Linked DNA regions of Homo sapiens. The protein of the gene in region 1 purifies or fractionates together with the protein of each later gene. This does not show direct contact. Each region holds a gene or a part of one and is shown in the gene's direction. Other genes may lie near its edges.

Region 1 (5,426 bases):
TCACTGCAAGCTCCACCTCCCGGGTTCATGCCATTCTCCTGCTTCAGCCTCCTGAGTAGCTGGGACTACAGGTGCCCGCCACCACACCCGGCTAATTTTTTGTATTTTTAGTAGAGACGGGGTTTCACCGTGTTAGCCAGGATGGTCTTGATCTCCTGACTTTGTGATCTATCTGCCTCGGCCTCCCAAAGTGCTGGGATTACAGGCGTGAGCCACCGCACCCGGCCAGACAGCTGCTTTTAAACTGCCTGCTTTTTCTCAGAGAAGGCCGTAAACTTTCCTAAGTGAGCAGCATGGAATAGTAGAAAAACAGGACTTAAAGTCAGACTGTCTGGTTTGAAACGTGGATTTCTATTTATTAACAGTGTAGGCTGGGAAAGTTAATCTCTCCATACCTCAAATCTCCTCAGTTCTGAAATGGGGATGATGATATGTAAAGATTAAGTGAATAGTATATATAAGTACCTAATACAGTCTGCCATGTAGATGTTTAACAAATACTAGTTTTCCCCTGGCTACCAATTCCTTAATTCTTCTTTTGATGAGTCTGTCTTCCATTCTTATGTTTCTGTTTGAGATACCATTATAATATGTCCCAAAATGTGATACATAGAAATAAGCCAAATGTTGCAAATCAAAGTTGGACCAGAGTGGAAGAAATTAGAAATGTTCATGTTAGAATAACATCTCTATTAATGTAATTAATGTAGTCCGGTATTGCATGAACCTTTTGGACAATCACGTCTTTCCAGCTACATCTTCCTTGTGCGTTACATATTTATTCTCTAGTACAGGTTGAACATCCTTAATTCAAAATGCTATAAAATTCAAAAACTCTTTAAGCATCAACATGATGCCACAAGTGGAAAATTCCACACCTGGCCTCATGATTGCTCGCAGTCAAAATACAAGTGCACAACACACTGTTTATTCAGGGTCCCTATGGGAAAAATTAATTACTTTCAGGCTATGTGTATAAGGTGGATATGAAACATAAAGGAATTCCCAATCCCCAGGATATCTCATATTGTATATGCAAATATTCTAAAATCTAAAAAAGTCTGAAACACTTTTGGTCCCAAGCATTTCAGATAAGGGATACTCAACCTGTATAGATTGATAGAACCCCTGTTAAGTTTTCTGTCTGTGGGTAACTAATTTTTCATTTCGTCCATTGTTCTGGACTTTCACATTTTCATCGGCTCTTGATTCTTTCATCCTACTTATTTATTAGCTGTCTTTACCAATCCCAAAGGACTTGGATTTTTTATATTATAAGTGGTTTCACTATGTTACTTACGTATTAAGAGTAAGAGAGCCCTGTATCAGCACAGTAGAAAGGTTATTGCTATATTTATCAGCAGTCTTTGGGTTGATTTGTTCTCCAAATTTATACGTTTATGTAACATATTATTATTATGCCCTTATTTGTTCATCTTGGTATCAAAGTTATGGCAAAGATTTCAGGTGCCATCTTGAAATTTGGATCACACAGTGTACTCATCTAGCAACATTTTTGAAATAGCCTCTACTTTATCTGGGAAAAGCATATGAAGTTCATTTGATAAGGAATGGGATGAGATTCGTTCTTCTGGATATCCCTTACAGAAGAATATGTACTGTCACAAACACATATGTATATGAATATATGATTGAATATATGTGCATATGCATATAACTTTAATGAGTTTGTGTTTATAATATGCTTATACCATCTTCTGTTACATTTGAATAGAAGTGGGAACAAGATCCTGAAACTTTCCTGATCATTATAAAGGGAGCAGGAGGAAAGGCTTTCTGTGCCGGGGGTGATATCAGAGGTAAAGACTTTTCCCTTTCACCTGAGTGCTCTTTCCCCCTACTAGAACTGATCAAGTATTGTCAAATTTTTGTAATAATTTATAATTTGCTTTACTTTTTAGAACTTTTTATTATAAAGTTAATACATTCTTAGGAAAAAGAAAAATTTAAAGACTTACTTTCTGCAGTTAGTATTAGCAAATGAGAATAGCAGATTTTTTTTTCTCACTACACAAATACCCATTTGAAATTTAAATATGTTGTCTCTCTCCCTGAATCATCACAAACAAAATGTCCAGTTAGGGTATATGGGTCCACTTTATATTTTAGAAGAGCTGATATTAAGCAGTTCTGTTGGTCTTATAACCTGACTATCTGGCCATGTTGACTTGCCATTCTTCAAATATGACATGCTCTCACATATTTCCATAACTTTTCCTATGCTTCCCACTATTCAAGATCCCAAAGCAACCATCTTCTATGTACTTATTTATAGCATTTATCCTGTTGCTATATATATATATATATATATATATATATATACACACAAAATATATATTACAAAATATATATTGTAAGTATATTTTACGTGTTTAAACATGCTGAGATAAAAAGAGAAACTCTCTTTATTTTTCATAATTGTTCAGGTCAGTCTGTCTATACACATTTAAATGTTAAAGACAAAAGAGAAGAAATGTCTGTTCTCAGCATCAGTGTCATGTATTTATTATAATCACTATAATTGTCCATATTATATGTACAGTATATTGAAAACTTTTTACATTTTGTATCTTGTTTCTTGTGGATTTGGTAGGGTTCAGGGATGGTTTTTTTCTTTGTGTTTTAATTTTATATGTTTGTTTGTTTGTTGTATTAAGACAACAGTCTTTGGGCTTGTTCACCAAACTTACGTAAACCATTACCTTAGGAACAGGAAAAAAGCTGGATTCAGGACATAATTTCAAATACTTATTAATGAATTTTAAAATTGCAGTTTAATGAAAACTTTGATTACTTAAACTGATCTGTTAACTGAATTGTTTTTGAATCTGTTGTTTTGCCTACAACATGCGTTTTTTTATTATTTTATTTATTTATTTATTTTTTTTTTTGAGACGGAGTTTCGCTCTTGTTGCGCAGGCTGGAGTGCAGTCACGTGATCTCTGCTCGCTGCAACCTCCACCTCCCAGGTTCAAACAATTCTCCTGCCTCAGCTTCCCGAGTAGCTGAGATTACAGGTGCCTGCCAACATGCCCTGCTAATTTTTTGTATTTTTAGTAGAGACAGGGTTTCACCATGTTGGCCAGGCTGGTCTTGAACTCCTGATCTCAGGCGATCCGCCTGCCTCGGCCTCCCAACAACATGCATATTTTTAAAATACTGTTTTTCAGCCTTGAATTAGCCTTTCGTCTGGCCTGTGATCGTCAGTTTACAGGTGGGCAGAGCTTTATGTATTGAGTTTATTAGCTTTTTCTGACTGAGCTATTTCTGCATATAGGCCTAATTTTATATTGATGTTTGGAAATAACAGCTACAAGTTGTAGAATTATTGTAGTTTACACATATAAAGCAGTGGATTCAAGTCCAGGAAATGTAATTTCTTGAAAGATTATAGTCCAAGACAATAAGTGGACACTCAGAAAATTTTCAAAAAATGATTGTGAAGGACATTTAATTTTAATTTAGATGGAACTAATTGATTAGAATAAAAATTAGATCAGAAAAAGATTTGAAGGAAATTTGAGAAGGTTTTTGAGGTAAAAGAGCTTCATTCCAAAGGCGATAAAACTTACATTCCTTTCCTTTTAGAATTGGTAAGCAGTGATAAGAGCTGAATAAAAGATGATAAACAAAGATAGTCATTTTTTGTTTGTTTGTTTGTTTGTTTAGGTATAAGTGAAACCTCAGAATGATAAAAGTAGGTGTCAGATCTTTCTTTTAAAAACCAGTAAAAGGACTGGGTGCAGAGGCTAACGCCTGTAATCTCAGCACTTTGGGAGGCCGAGGTGGGAGGATTGCCTGAGCTCAAGAGTTCGAGACCAGCCTGGGCAATGTGGTGAAACCCCGTCTCTACTAAAATACAAAAAAGAAAAATTAGCTGGGCATGGCGGCATGCGCCTATAGTCCCAGCTACTTGGGAGGCTGAGGCAGGAGAATTGCTTGAACCTGGGAGGTGGAGGTTGCAGTGAGCTGAGATCATGCCACCGCACTCCAGCCTGGTGACAAGGCAAGACTCCGTTTCAAAAACAAACACCCCAAAAAACCAGGAAAAGAAGTCGACATATGGAACATTTTGAAGGAAGAGATATCAGAATTCTAGAGTTAGGAGGCCCGAGCCGGCAGATCACCTGAGGTTGGGAGTTCGAGACCGGCCTGGCCAATATAGTGAAACCCCTCTCTACTAAAAATACAAAAATTAGCCAGGCATGGTGGCACATGCCTGTAATCCCAACTACTTGGGAGGCTGAGGCAGGAGAATCACTTCAACCTGGGAGGTGGAGGTTGCAGTGAGCCAAGATTGTGCCACTGTACTCCAGCCTGGGCAACAAAGCGAGATTCTGTCTCAAAACAAACAAAAAACAAACAAGAGAATTCTAGAGTTAGTGTAAGAATTGGTAGACAACATTTTGTATGTAATACTTTCCCATAAAAGAGGAAACATATCTATGAAATGTTTAGTTTGTGTTTTAATAGATAAATCTCATAGGACTTAAAGACAAGAAAGGCATATGAGTTGCAGTATATAGAAGAGGAAACTTTGATAGCAGTCTTGAGATTGACTGGAGGAGGAATATGGTAGGAGATGTGAACTCTGGGTAATAGAAGATTGCAACAGAAGTGAAACCATTTGATAGTGTTCACTATTCAGTAGATATTTACTGAGCATTTGTTTTTTAAGCCAGGCAGTGGTATGCTGTAGCAATGTCTTTGAGAATTTACATTTCTATCGATGTTAATAAATAAGAATGTCAGTATATTATTTACCTGTCTAGCCTCACCTTTTCCCTTTGCCCTTTAGTCTTTTAAAGCTGTTTGATTCTTGATTTTACTCTTCTTTCTTGACTTTGAGGCTTTGTAGGGTACTGCTTCCCCTAGTCAGAATTTTTCTTTCTGTCATTTTCTAGGAAATTCCTATTTACCTTTTCCAACTTGGCTTAGGGTTACCTCTTCTAGGAAGCCTTCTTTTAATTAATTACACATCTCCTGCTCCCATTCTGACAGCACCCCAATCCTTACAGGACAAAGAATATGTTTTAGTATCAGTCTAAACTCCAGGACAGCCATCTTGTGTTGCTGTCTTTATTATCTGCAACACCTAAAACATTACTTGGTATGTAGTAGGTGCTCAATAAATGTTTTATGGGGGAAATGAATGTGGCAGAAATATTTAAGGACATGGGATACGTTGTAGCACTATACACACACGTATAATACATTTTGTATTAAGACATATTACCAAAGGAAATGTATGTCTAGCAAATGTTAATTTAAGTGCTAGAGAAAATAATCAAAAGAAAATGTAGCTTGTTGCAATATATTATTATTTTTTTTAAGGAGACAGGGTGTCACTCTTCTCTCCAGGCTAGAGTACAGTGGTGTGATGATGGCTCACTGTAGCCTCAATA
Region 2 (3,519 bases), on another chromosome or scaffold:
TTTTCCTTCTGAATTTGTGTCTTCAAAAAGTCAATTATTTGGCTGATCTTGAATAGTGAACTTAAAATACTTTGATGGAAAAAGGAATTATTTCATTCATGATACTGGATTATTCTGTTTCATAACTTTCCTTGATCTAGGTGATCTTGCTGTAAGAAACTCTGTATTTAGGCTGGACGTGGTGGCTCACACCTATAATCCTAGCATTTTGGGAGGCTGAGGCGGGAGGATCACTTGAGCTCAGGAGTTCAAGACCAGCCTAGACAACATAGTGAGACCTCATCTCTATGATAAAACAGATTTTTTTAAAGTAAAAAAAAAACCTCTCTATTTGAAAATTTGATCATAAAACACATTAAGCAGTGTTTATAATGTGAAATAATTTACTTGATTTACTATAAATATACTGTATGTGTAACTGGCAAGTTTGGTATACAGAGTTGGCTTTATACATAAATATACTGTATGTGCAACTAGCAAGTTTGGTATACAGAATTGGTATACACATATACTGTATGTGTAACTGGCAAGTTTTGTATACAGAGTGTGTGTACGTATATACGCACATATACATACATATTTAAATTTGGAATCAGCAAAATTTTTTCTTTTCTAGGAACTAAGCGTCTTGTAGAAGGAACTATTAATCCAGGAGAAACCTGTTTAATCATTGAAGATGTTGTCACCAGTGGATCTAGTGTTTTGGAAACTGTTGAGGTTCTTCAGAAGGAGGGCTTGAAGGTCACTGATGCCATAGTGCTGTTGGACAGAGAGCAGGGAGGCAAGGACAAGTTGCAGGCGCACGGGATCCGCCTCCACTCAGTGTGTACATTGTCCAAAATGCTGGAGATTCTCGAGCAGCAGAAAAAAGTTGATGCTGAGACAGTTGGGAGAGTGAAGAGGTTTATTCAGGAGAATGTCTTTGTGGCAGCGAATCATAATGGTTCTCCCCTTTCTATAAAGGAAGCACCCAAAGAACTCAGCTTCGGTGCACGTGCAGAGCTGCCCAGGATCCACCCAGTTGCATCGAAGCTTCTCAGGCTTATGCAAAAGAAGGAGACCAATCTGTGTCTATCTGCTGATGTTTCACTGGCCAGAGAGCTGTTGCAGCTAGCAGATGCTTTAGGACCTAGTATCTGCATGCTGAAGACTCATGTAGATATTTTGAATGATTTTACTCTGGATGTGATGAAGGAGTTGATAACTCTGGCAAAATGCCATGAGTTCTTGATATTTGAAGACCGGAAGTTTGCAGATATAGGAAACACAGTGAAAAAGCAGTATGAAGGTAAGTGTATTATTCAGGAATCTGCAAGAATCAGAAATCCAGCTTAAACTGAAGAAGAAAAAGGAAATGCTCATGTCATTGAAAGTCCATTCATAGAGCAGGCTGTCAAGCGTGGTTGGATCCAGGAGCTCAAGTGATATCTTCATGACTTGCTTTCTCTCCATCTCTCAGCTCTGCTTTCTTCTCTGTTGACTTCTTTCTCAGGTAGGCATACTCTGCATGCTCACCCCAAACCAATCACTCTAGCTTGGGATGTAGAATACCTTCATTAACTAGCCTGGGCAATTTGCTCTGCAACTGTGAGGTTGTTAACTCTGTATGACCTTCTTGAAATAAGAACCAGTCAGGGATAATTTCCTTAAAGAAAATGGATGTGCTAGTACCAGAAGAAGGGTATGTGCCTGGGCAAGCAAATTTGACAGATGTCCTTGGCAGAATATGATGTTTTGAATGAAAATTCCACATAAAGGAAACAATGAAAAAGAAATATAAAATGGTAAGATTTATTTGTAGCAGAAAAAGTTCTATTGATAAACATTATTTAAAGATTTTTCTTTTATCAAATAGGGACTCAAAGTAGTGCATGTGTTGGTTGAGAAAAATGCTTAGTTCTACTGCCTATTCTATGCAAATTTCTGTCTATGTTTTTACAACTGTGTGATCAGACTATATTTAATGCATTTTTCACTTAACCTGGTAACAGATATTTGGTTGTGTCATATAACATTTTTTGTAGGCATCTTTGAGGTAACTTTTCTTTAATGTATGCATGTTCATAAGCTATTTCTTTAAAATAGATTTGTCTTTAAGTGACTTCTTCATGTGCTTAAGATGTCCTGCCCTCATCACATTGCCTAGCTTACTTTAGCTGATTGACTGACATAAGAGTTTTATACAAACTTTCTTCAGCTCTGCATAGAGTTTTTTCGAAAATCAGGCTTGTTACTGTCCGCTTTTAAAAGGAATATAGTTGCCTATTGAAATTAGATAGCTAAGGAGATCTAAGGAACACGTAGAAATATTGAGCGATAGTAAAGCTGCTGAGAGACCCCTGCAGAGTGAAAACTTGTCATCTTCAAGAAGAATTTTATTTTTATTATTATTTTTTTTGAGATGGGGTCTTGCTCTGTCGCCCAGGCTGGAGTGCAGTGGTGCAATCTTGACTCACTGCAACCTCCACCTCCTGGGCTCAAGTGATCCTCCCACCTCAGCCTCCCAAGTAGCTGGGACCACAGGCATGCGCCACCACACCTAGCTAATTTTTTTGTATTTTTGGTAGAGATGGAGTTTTGCCATGTTGCCCAGGCTGGTCTCGAACTCCTAAACTCAAGCAATCTGCCCACCTCAGCCTCCCAAAGTACTGGGATTACAAGCATGAGCCACCATGCCCAGCTTCAAGAGGAATTTTTAAATGTTATCCTTGACATCAATAAATGTTTATCTTCACTGGAGTCCCTTTCTAATAGCATGAGCTTTATTTGTGGTCATGAGCTTCAGCCTTCAAGGAAAAAGAGTCCTGTTAGTGTTCCAGATAAGCCAAGTGCAGACCTTGAAAGTTTTTTCTCATTGTGATCTCTCACCCAGCTACTTACCTGAATAACAGATACAGTTTTCACAGATGGAACCATGGGTCTGCTGATAATCACTAAAGTTCCTGAAGAGTTTTGATTCTCTCATTAACATGTTACTGGGAGATTATTTCATATTGTAGTTGGTTGGTTGGACAAGACGTTAGAGGTTTTGTTTGAAAATCAGCAAATATCTTTTTTCCCCCTTCTTCTTAGGAGGTATCTTTAAAATAGCTTCCTGGGCAGATCTAGTAAATGCTCACGTGGTGCCAGGCTCAGGAGTTGTGAAAGGCCTGCAAGAAGTGGGCCTGCCTTTGCATCGGGGGTGCCTCCTTATTGCGGAAATGAGCTCCACCGGCTCCCTGGCCACTGGGGACTACACTAGAGCAGCGGTAAGTGGTGGGGGGACTGGGTGAGAGGGGGCAGGGGCTGCTATGCTGCATGCTGCAAGAAGATATCTCCTAATCTGGCGTTTCTGGAACCTCTGCCAAAAAAAAAATCCAGCTCTTGTTAGTGTGACAGTATATTAATACTAGTTGGATAGAATTCCTTGATAGTTAATAGCATTTTATATCATGTAGTGGACACTTCAGGAATTTGAATTATACTCCAAGAGAAACTTTGAGACCCAGATAGTTAGTCAAACAAACACTTACTAAATCT

The links. Proteins that work in one complex are often made in the same cells at the same time.
Region 2: the proteins of HIBCH (region 1) and UMPS fractionate together in Homo sapiens (co-fractionation; one large-scale study listed by BioGRID). This does not show direct contact.

The regions. Positions count from the first base shown.
Region 1 is NC_000002.12:190,290,940-190,296,365, reverse strand, and holds part of HIBCH (3-hydroxyisobutyryl-CoA hydrolase, mitochondrial isoform 1 precursor), read left to right. Parts: intron 1-1,735; coding exon 1,736-1,820; intron 1,821-5,426. UniProt on the Homo sapiens protein: Hydrolyzes 3-hydroxyisobutyryl-CoA (HIBYL-CoA), a saline catabolite. Has high activity toward isobutyryl-CoA. Could be an isobutyryl-CoA dehydrogenase that functions in valine catabolism. Also hydrolyzes 3-hydroxypropanoyl-CoA.
Region 2 is NC_000003.12:124,736,952-124,740,470, forward strand, and holds part of UMPS (uridine 5'-monophosphate synthase), read left to right. Parts: intron 1-616; coding exon 617-1,288; exon of another isoform or gene 1,289-1,492; intron 1,493-3,072; coding exon 3,073-3,248; intron 3,249-3,519. UniProt on the Homo sapiens protein: Bifunctional enzyme catalyzing the last two steps of de novo pyrimidine biosynthesis, orotate phosphoribosyltransferase (OPRT), which converts orotate to orotidine-5'-monophosphate (OMP), and orotidine-5'-monophosphate decarboxylase (ODC), the terminal enzymatic reaction that decarboxylates OMP to uridine monophosphate (UMP).